2 linked regions of the Homo sapiens genome follow. Each later gene encodes a partner of the first gene's protein in a complex. Each region holds a gene or a part of one and is shown in the gene's direction. Other genes may lie near its edges. The genes, in order: ERCC5 and SEM1.

Region 1 (3,830 bases):
TGATGGGGATGCTCCACTATTGAAGAAACAGACTTTGGTAAGTGTCGTATAGTTTTTAGTAAGTGTCAAATAATTTTTTTCTTTCTGCATTCTTAGAAAAATTCACATAAAATTTTTGTTTTCTCTTTAGAATTTTAGAAACAGACTTATTTTGACACATACTTAATTACATCTACTTTTTTATCTTGAACAATTAATTTTTCTTTTAAAAAGTTTTATGAGAGTTCATCATGGGTACAATGATAAAATTTAACTTTTAAATAAAACTAACTACTAAAAACCTTGCTGTTGAGAGTTTTCCCTTCAGAGGATCTTGTTAGGTGTTTTATATTTATTTCAAGGATGCGGCCATCACTCAGAACACTGTGGAAACCCTCTTTTGGGAAGTGCCTCCCTGAATCTGAGATCAAGTATCCTCCGTGATAGCAAGCCTTCTTTTAAGGGGAATTGGATTTTAGGAGTAAGCAATGTTATGTGGTGCCAAGTGGTGACTAAAGTGGATTATCTAGGAAGGAAATTGACCATGATATAGAAGAGTCAGAATGAGTTGCTGCTTTATTGTTCTGGAAGTAGTTTTAAAAAATGTTTTTGGAAGGCCGGGGGCAGGAGGATTGCTTGAGCCCAAGTCCAGCCTGGGCAACACAGGGAGACCCCATCTCTAAAAAAATGACATAAAATAATGTTTAAACAGTCCAAATGACAGCACCCATTTGGATATATGACTTTTATTTGTTGAAAATACCAAAGTAATGAAATGATGACTTTGTAATCATACCAGATACTCTCTAAATGAGGATATAGGATAAAAGTAAGGATATAGGATAAAAATAAAAAGCATTTATAAATGCTGGGGGACCTTTGTTGCCTCAGTAAGAGTGTCTAGTCTTGAATGTTGCAGTTTTCAGTTACCCAAGGCATACTGTAAATCAGGTACTTTGTGGAAGGATTAGAAAGGAAAAGAGAATATCTTGGTTATTTTTATCCGATATTCAGCCATAAGCACAGGGACTATCCATTTGTCACTACTTGAACATTTCTTACAAGATATTTCTATACATTTTAGAATTTCTCATGATATATAATCTTGAATATTGAAGGGCAGAATTACATGTAAGTAATGCATGTTTATAAAAAGCAATATTAGAAATTGTTTTTGGTGTCACTGTGACATTTTATAGAATAAATAAATAATTTCTTTTGGGAAGCATTTAAGCTTTCCACTTCTTGGGCATATTAAAAGACATTTAAAAGAAACTGAAAGTAAATTAAGTTTCCCAAATATATTGTGTAGTAGCCCATTAAGTAATAGATGGAAACTCTGGGTGTCCTTTACGTAGCAGCAACCTGAAGATATACACTGATATGGCAATTAGGAGGAAATGCTAAAGCAGCCATAGTCTGAAAACTCAGACAAACCAAATTCTCTGGAAAATAAATCACAGCAATGTTTCTAGTGGTCTAATATCCTGAAGTGAGATCTTACATCCTTTCTTCTCATAGGTGAAGAGAAGGCAGAGAAAGGACTTAGCGTCCAGTGACTCCAGGAAAACGACAGAGAAGCTTCTGAAAACATTTTTGAAAAGACAAGCCATCAAAACTGCCTTCAGAAGCAAAAGGCAAGAGGAAAATTATAGTCGTGTTAGAGATGAAGTTTTAAAAAAGTGATTTTTGTCTTGATTTCCTGCGATTCTCTTTCCCTATCTAATTTTGACTCTCAACAGAAAATAGAGAGTGAAATGAGACAAGTAGGCTGCCATTTTGACCTGGTAATTTGGAGTTGTGGCAATTCTCCGTTCTGTGAGAATCAACTTTGCTAATGAGAAAAAAAAGCTGTCGTGTTGCGTCATGTACACTTTTTACTTTGATTATGGTCTTCTTGACTCTAGGTGAGCAGCCCCGCCAAGGTTCCTTCCTTTCTCTCGGCTGCATTTATTTTCCACAGCAGTGGCCTGAGAGCAGCCAGGTCAGGTCCCTGTTCACCATCCTGAGCAGGGTCTGCATAATCTGTTTAAAGATTTGTGTACTTTCCAGAGATGAAGCACTACCCAGTCTTACCCAAGTTCGAAGAGAAAACGACCTCTATGTTTTGCCTCCTTTACAAGAGGAAGAAAAACACAGGTAAATGTTTAACTATTTAAGAATATTATTTTAGTCATTGCTACATTCAGACACATTTAAACCTTGATGTGTTATCTACATGATAAGGCATGTGAACATTTCTTAATGCATCTGAAATAGGCATGCTCTATACCTTTCAGAATATTTTTCAAAGACTAAATTTTTTATTTACTATTCTTTGTGTTTTGGTGATTCATGATTCTTATTCCTCTTCATTCTAAAGAACTTCTGCCAGGGCTGTGGATTCTAAATTCTCCAAGGCATGAATTTTAGTTTTGCTTACACTTTGCTTACACATGCTGTCTCTAGCTGCTTTTCAATCCAGTATGGTCTCTCTCACCATGATGCTAAAATACCACAACCCATGACATTCTTGTTGCTAAATCTAGCAGACGCTTTGCACGTCTTAGTGTGCTCGACTTCTCTGCACTAAACACCATGCCACACTGCCCCGCTCCCCCGGCATCTCTCTGGCGCTTTCTGCTCAGCCTCTCTGTGGACTCCTCTTCCTCTGTCTCTCTCTTAATGGTTGGTGGTTTCTGTGTTTGAAGTGAAGGTGGAGAACCGGAAGCTTGGCAGTTTGCCTTTGTCCCCTGTCCTTCCCTCCACCTCTTCCTTTCCCAGGAGTTCCCAAGAGACAACTTAGCTTTTGTATCAGCTCAGTTCTATTTGTCTCCATTGCTACCACTGTCATTTTTTCTCCAGGTTACATTATTAGCTTTTAAACTTCTTTCTGTCTTTGTCTTTGATCATACCCTTTTTGTAATAGTTCCTCCCACCAAGCCCAATCTCTGTTTTGTGTTATAGTCTGTTTAAAATCCAAATCTGATATTGTCATTTCCTTACTTAAAACACTTTCTAGCTTCTCCTTCTCATTTTTTTCTTTCTTTTTTTTTTGAGATGGAGTCTCTGTTGCCCAGACTGGAGTGCAGTGGCACAATCTCAGCTCACTGCAACCCCTGCCTCCTGGGTTTAAGCGATTCTCCTGCCTCAGCCTCCGGAGTAGCTGGGATTACAGGCACGTGCCACCACACCTGGCTAATTTTTTGTATTTTTAGTAGAGACGAGGTTTCACCATGTTGTCCAGGCTGGTCTCGAACTCCTGACCTCAAGTGATCCACCTGCCTCGGCCTCCCAAAGTGCTGGGATTGCAGGCGTGAGCCACCACACGCAGCTTAGCTTCTCATTTCTTTAGGATAAAACTTTAACTCCTTAATTACACTTTCCAGTCTTATCCCTGCCTTTCTTCACATCATCCACAGGCAGGCTTTCTTTTCCTTGTTTCTATATGGTCATACAACTTAGTTCTTTTGCCTGGAACACTCTTCTCCATGAACCTTCCCGCTCCCTACAACTACACTCATTAATTCGTGGCTAACTCCAACCAGTGTAATTGCAGGAGATCCTGGAAAGCTTTTGTGACTCCTAAATTGGGTGAGGTGACTCCCTATTGCATCTCTAGTGACCTGCCCTTCCCTTGTGGTGGAAGTTATTAGATCCCACTCTAATTGCTTACTTACACGTGTCCCCCACCAGACCATGAGACCAGTAGTGGCACAGATCTTGCTGTTTTATTCACCACTGTAGCCCGTATAACGAGCAGAGCCTTGCATACAAGTATTTTTGTAAGGGGTCCTTAAAAATCATAGATATCGTAAAAGTATGTTTGACTTTCAGTTCAGAAGAGGAAGATGAAAAAGAATGGCAAGAAA
Region 2 (2,622 bases), on another chromosome or scaffold:
AAACTTTGATTTCTAATAGTAATGCAGTAGCACCAGCTCCTACACTGCATTTTTTTTTATTGGCTCTATAAAGACTTAGAATTTTGCTGGAGACTGATAATAATTTTACCTATCTACTTTTTTTCTCATTTTTAGAAATAGTATAATTTACCTTTCACTGTTATACTGATACTTCTACAGTTTTTCATTTCCGTGTCTCAAATATTGCTGACTGATTTTTGACTACATCTTTTGGTTCTTCTAGTACCCTGAGATGTAATTATCCAGAGCCTTGAGATTTTAAACTGCCTTAATGCAGTTATCTTACCTGTCTTAGTTTTCAATTTTGTCTTAATTATGTTGTTTTTCCTTTTATAGTTTTATGGACAAGATAAAAATGATAGCTATTGAACAATAATCCTGCTTTTTCTCTAAAATCTGTTAATGTTACATCATCTGTTCCAAGCATTGTACCTGCTCTTTCTCATTCTTCATGATCAGTATATGGCTCTTAGAAGCCCCTTCTGTTCTTTTTACAGATTTCAGTTTATTTCGAGGATCAGATTAATTCTATGTGTACAAGCTCATGCCCTTTCTTTTTATATCTGTCTTTGTTTTATGTCCTTCAAAAAATGAGCCACATTAGAGAACACCCTACTAGCTTTTGAAAAATATACATTCCCTTTTGTTCCGCCTTGGCATCATTATGCTATTAGACTATTTATTTTCAGGTCTTCCAAATGCTGTTGATCTCTACTCTGTGTTTTTAATCACGTGTCAGAGTTTTCTTCCTGATATGTTTTTGACATTTTGAAATTGAGGCTAAACAAGTTTTCTTCCTTTGACATTCAAAATAGTCAAATTTCTTTGAAGTTTTGTTTCTTTTATGTCTTTCATTAGCACTTTTCTCTTAAAACTGATTGATACATTGTTGAATACTATAATTTTTACCAAGAAACTTTCAGTAGTAAATGTATTGATAATTAGATTTCACATCATTACATGTTGCCTTTTTATTGCTTTAGAAATAGAACATTATATATTTGTGGCTTACTGTTTTTATAATACACCCCCACAGTGCCATTATGTACTCTTGTGTTTCTGCCTTTAGGTTTGTGGATTTCTATAGGTATATAAATCTATTTTTGTTGTTTTTTCACTGTTGTTGTTTTTTGCCTGAGGTATATAAATCTTGATGCCTCCATTAGTGAATAAGATTTTTCTTTTTATTTCCCCATTTGAGTCATGAGTTCTTTCTTCACTAAGATTGTTGCCACATTGCCAGTGGTGTCAAATAGAACTTGCTGTAGTGATGGAAATGTTTGAGAAGCTGCTGTATAGAAGCAATCAGTTACATTTGGCTACTAAGCACATGAAATGTGGCTAGCACAGCTAAGGGACTGAATTTTTTGTTTTATTCAATTAAAATAGCCACATATGACTACCATATTGAATAAAACAGCCTCGCACAATCCTTGCTTTAAAAAATTTGTCTTGATTAAAAGACTCACACAAAGTTATTCTTCCTAGTCTTTTCTGTAAAGTACATGGAAACCCTTAACATAATATCATAAGTCATGGTAAAGAATGGAGTTTACTGTTGTCTGATGTTATTTGGTCCTAATCCTATTTAACAGTGGAGAGGCATCTCAGACTCTAGTGTGAATCAGATTGCTGGGGTTCCAACCCCAGATCTGCCTCCTATTTAGCCATATGAACCTTGGGCAACTCACTTAGCCTTTCTGTGACCTACTTTTGTCACACATAAAACTCAGATGATAATTAGTGCTTTACTGCTAGAGTTATTATAACGTTTAAGTGATTTAACATGTGTAGAGTGCTTAGACTGTGGTGTGTGTGTGTTAAATAAAAACTGTCCATGTCGCAGGCCCCCCACTTTCCACATTCGTCTTTCTCTTTCCGTGTAATTACCTTTAACAGAAGTAGAAAGAATAAGGCCACTTTGTTCTTCCAGGTAACTCAAAGTCATTCTGATTTTGCAGCTTCTGATATCATTTGTTTATGTATTAAGAGAAATAGGTAGTAGTATGATTTTTCTCAACCCTATTTCACGTCTTACATAAAAACTCTAAGAAGCCAGTATAGGCCAGGCGCAGTGGCTCACACCTGTAACCCCAGCACTTTGGGAGGCCGAGGCCGGTGGATCACGAGGTCAGGAGATCGAGACCATCCTGGCTAACATGTTGAAACCCCGTCTCTACTAAAAATACAAAAAAATTAGCTGGGCCTGGTGGCGGGCGCCTGTAGTCCCAGCTACTAGGGAGGCTGAGGCAGGACAATGGCATAAACCTGGGAGGTGGAGCTTGCAGTGAGCCGAGATGGCACCACTGCACTCCAGCCTGGGCAACAGAGCGAGACTCCATCTCAACAACAACAAAAAAATCCAGTATAGTTCCTGATTTACCAAATCAGATATAGCCATTGTCATAAAGCTGAGTAGTTTCTTGGATAGTAAGAGGACTTTTCAAACCTACTAGTGGCCATTAGTCTTTTTTCTTGTTTTGTTGCACAAAGACTGCTGCTGTTTTCGTTTCAGATAGTGTATGTTCACTGTGTATGTCGTATGATATTAACAGTTGTGCTGAGGTTTTCTATTTTTGTCTTTGTTGATTTTTCCACTCA

What was found.
Region 2: ERCC5 (region 1) and SEM1 share a complex: the UniProt entries of both Homo sapiens proteins name them as parts of the homologous recombination repair (HR) complex.

Annotation. Positions count from the first base shown.
Region 1 is NC_000013.11:102,852,257-102,856,086, forward strand, and holds part of ERCC5 (DNA excision repair protein ERCC-5), read left to right. Parts: coding exon 1-37; intron 38-1,500; coding exon 1,501-1,616; intron 1,617-2,031; coding exon 2,032-2,118; intron 2,119-3,795; coding exon 3,796-3,830. Other genes in the region: BIVM-ERCC5 protein, read left to right, coding at 1-37, 1,501-1,616, 2,032-2,118, 3,796-3,830. UniProt on the Homo sapiens protein: Single-stranded structure-specific DNA endonuclease involved in DNA excision repair. Makes the 3'incision in DNA nucleotide excision repair (NER).
Region 2 is NC_000007.14:96,690,533-96,693,154, reverse strand, and holds part of SEM1 (26S proteasome complex subunit SEM1), read left to right. Parts: intron 1-2,622. UniProt on the Homo sapiens protein: Component of the 26S proteasome, a multiprotein complex involved in the ATP-dependent degradation of ubiquitinated proteins.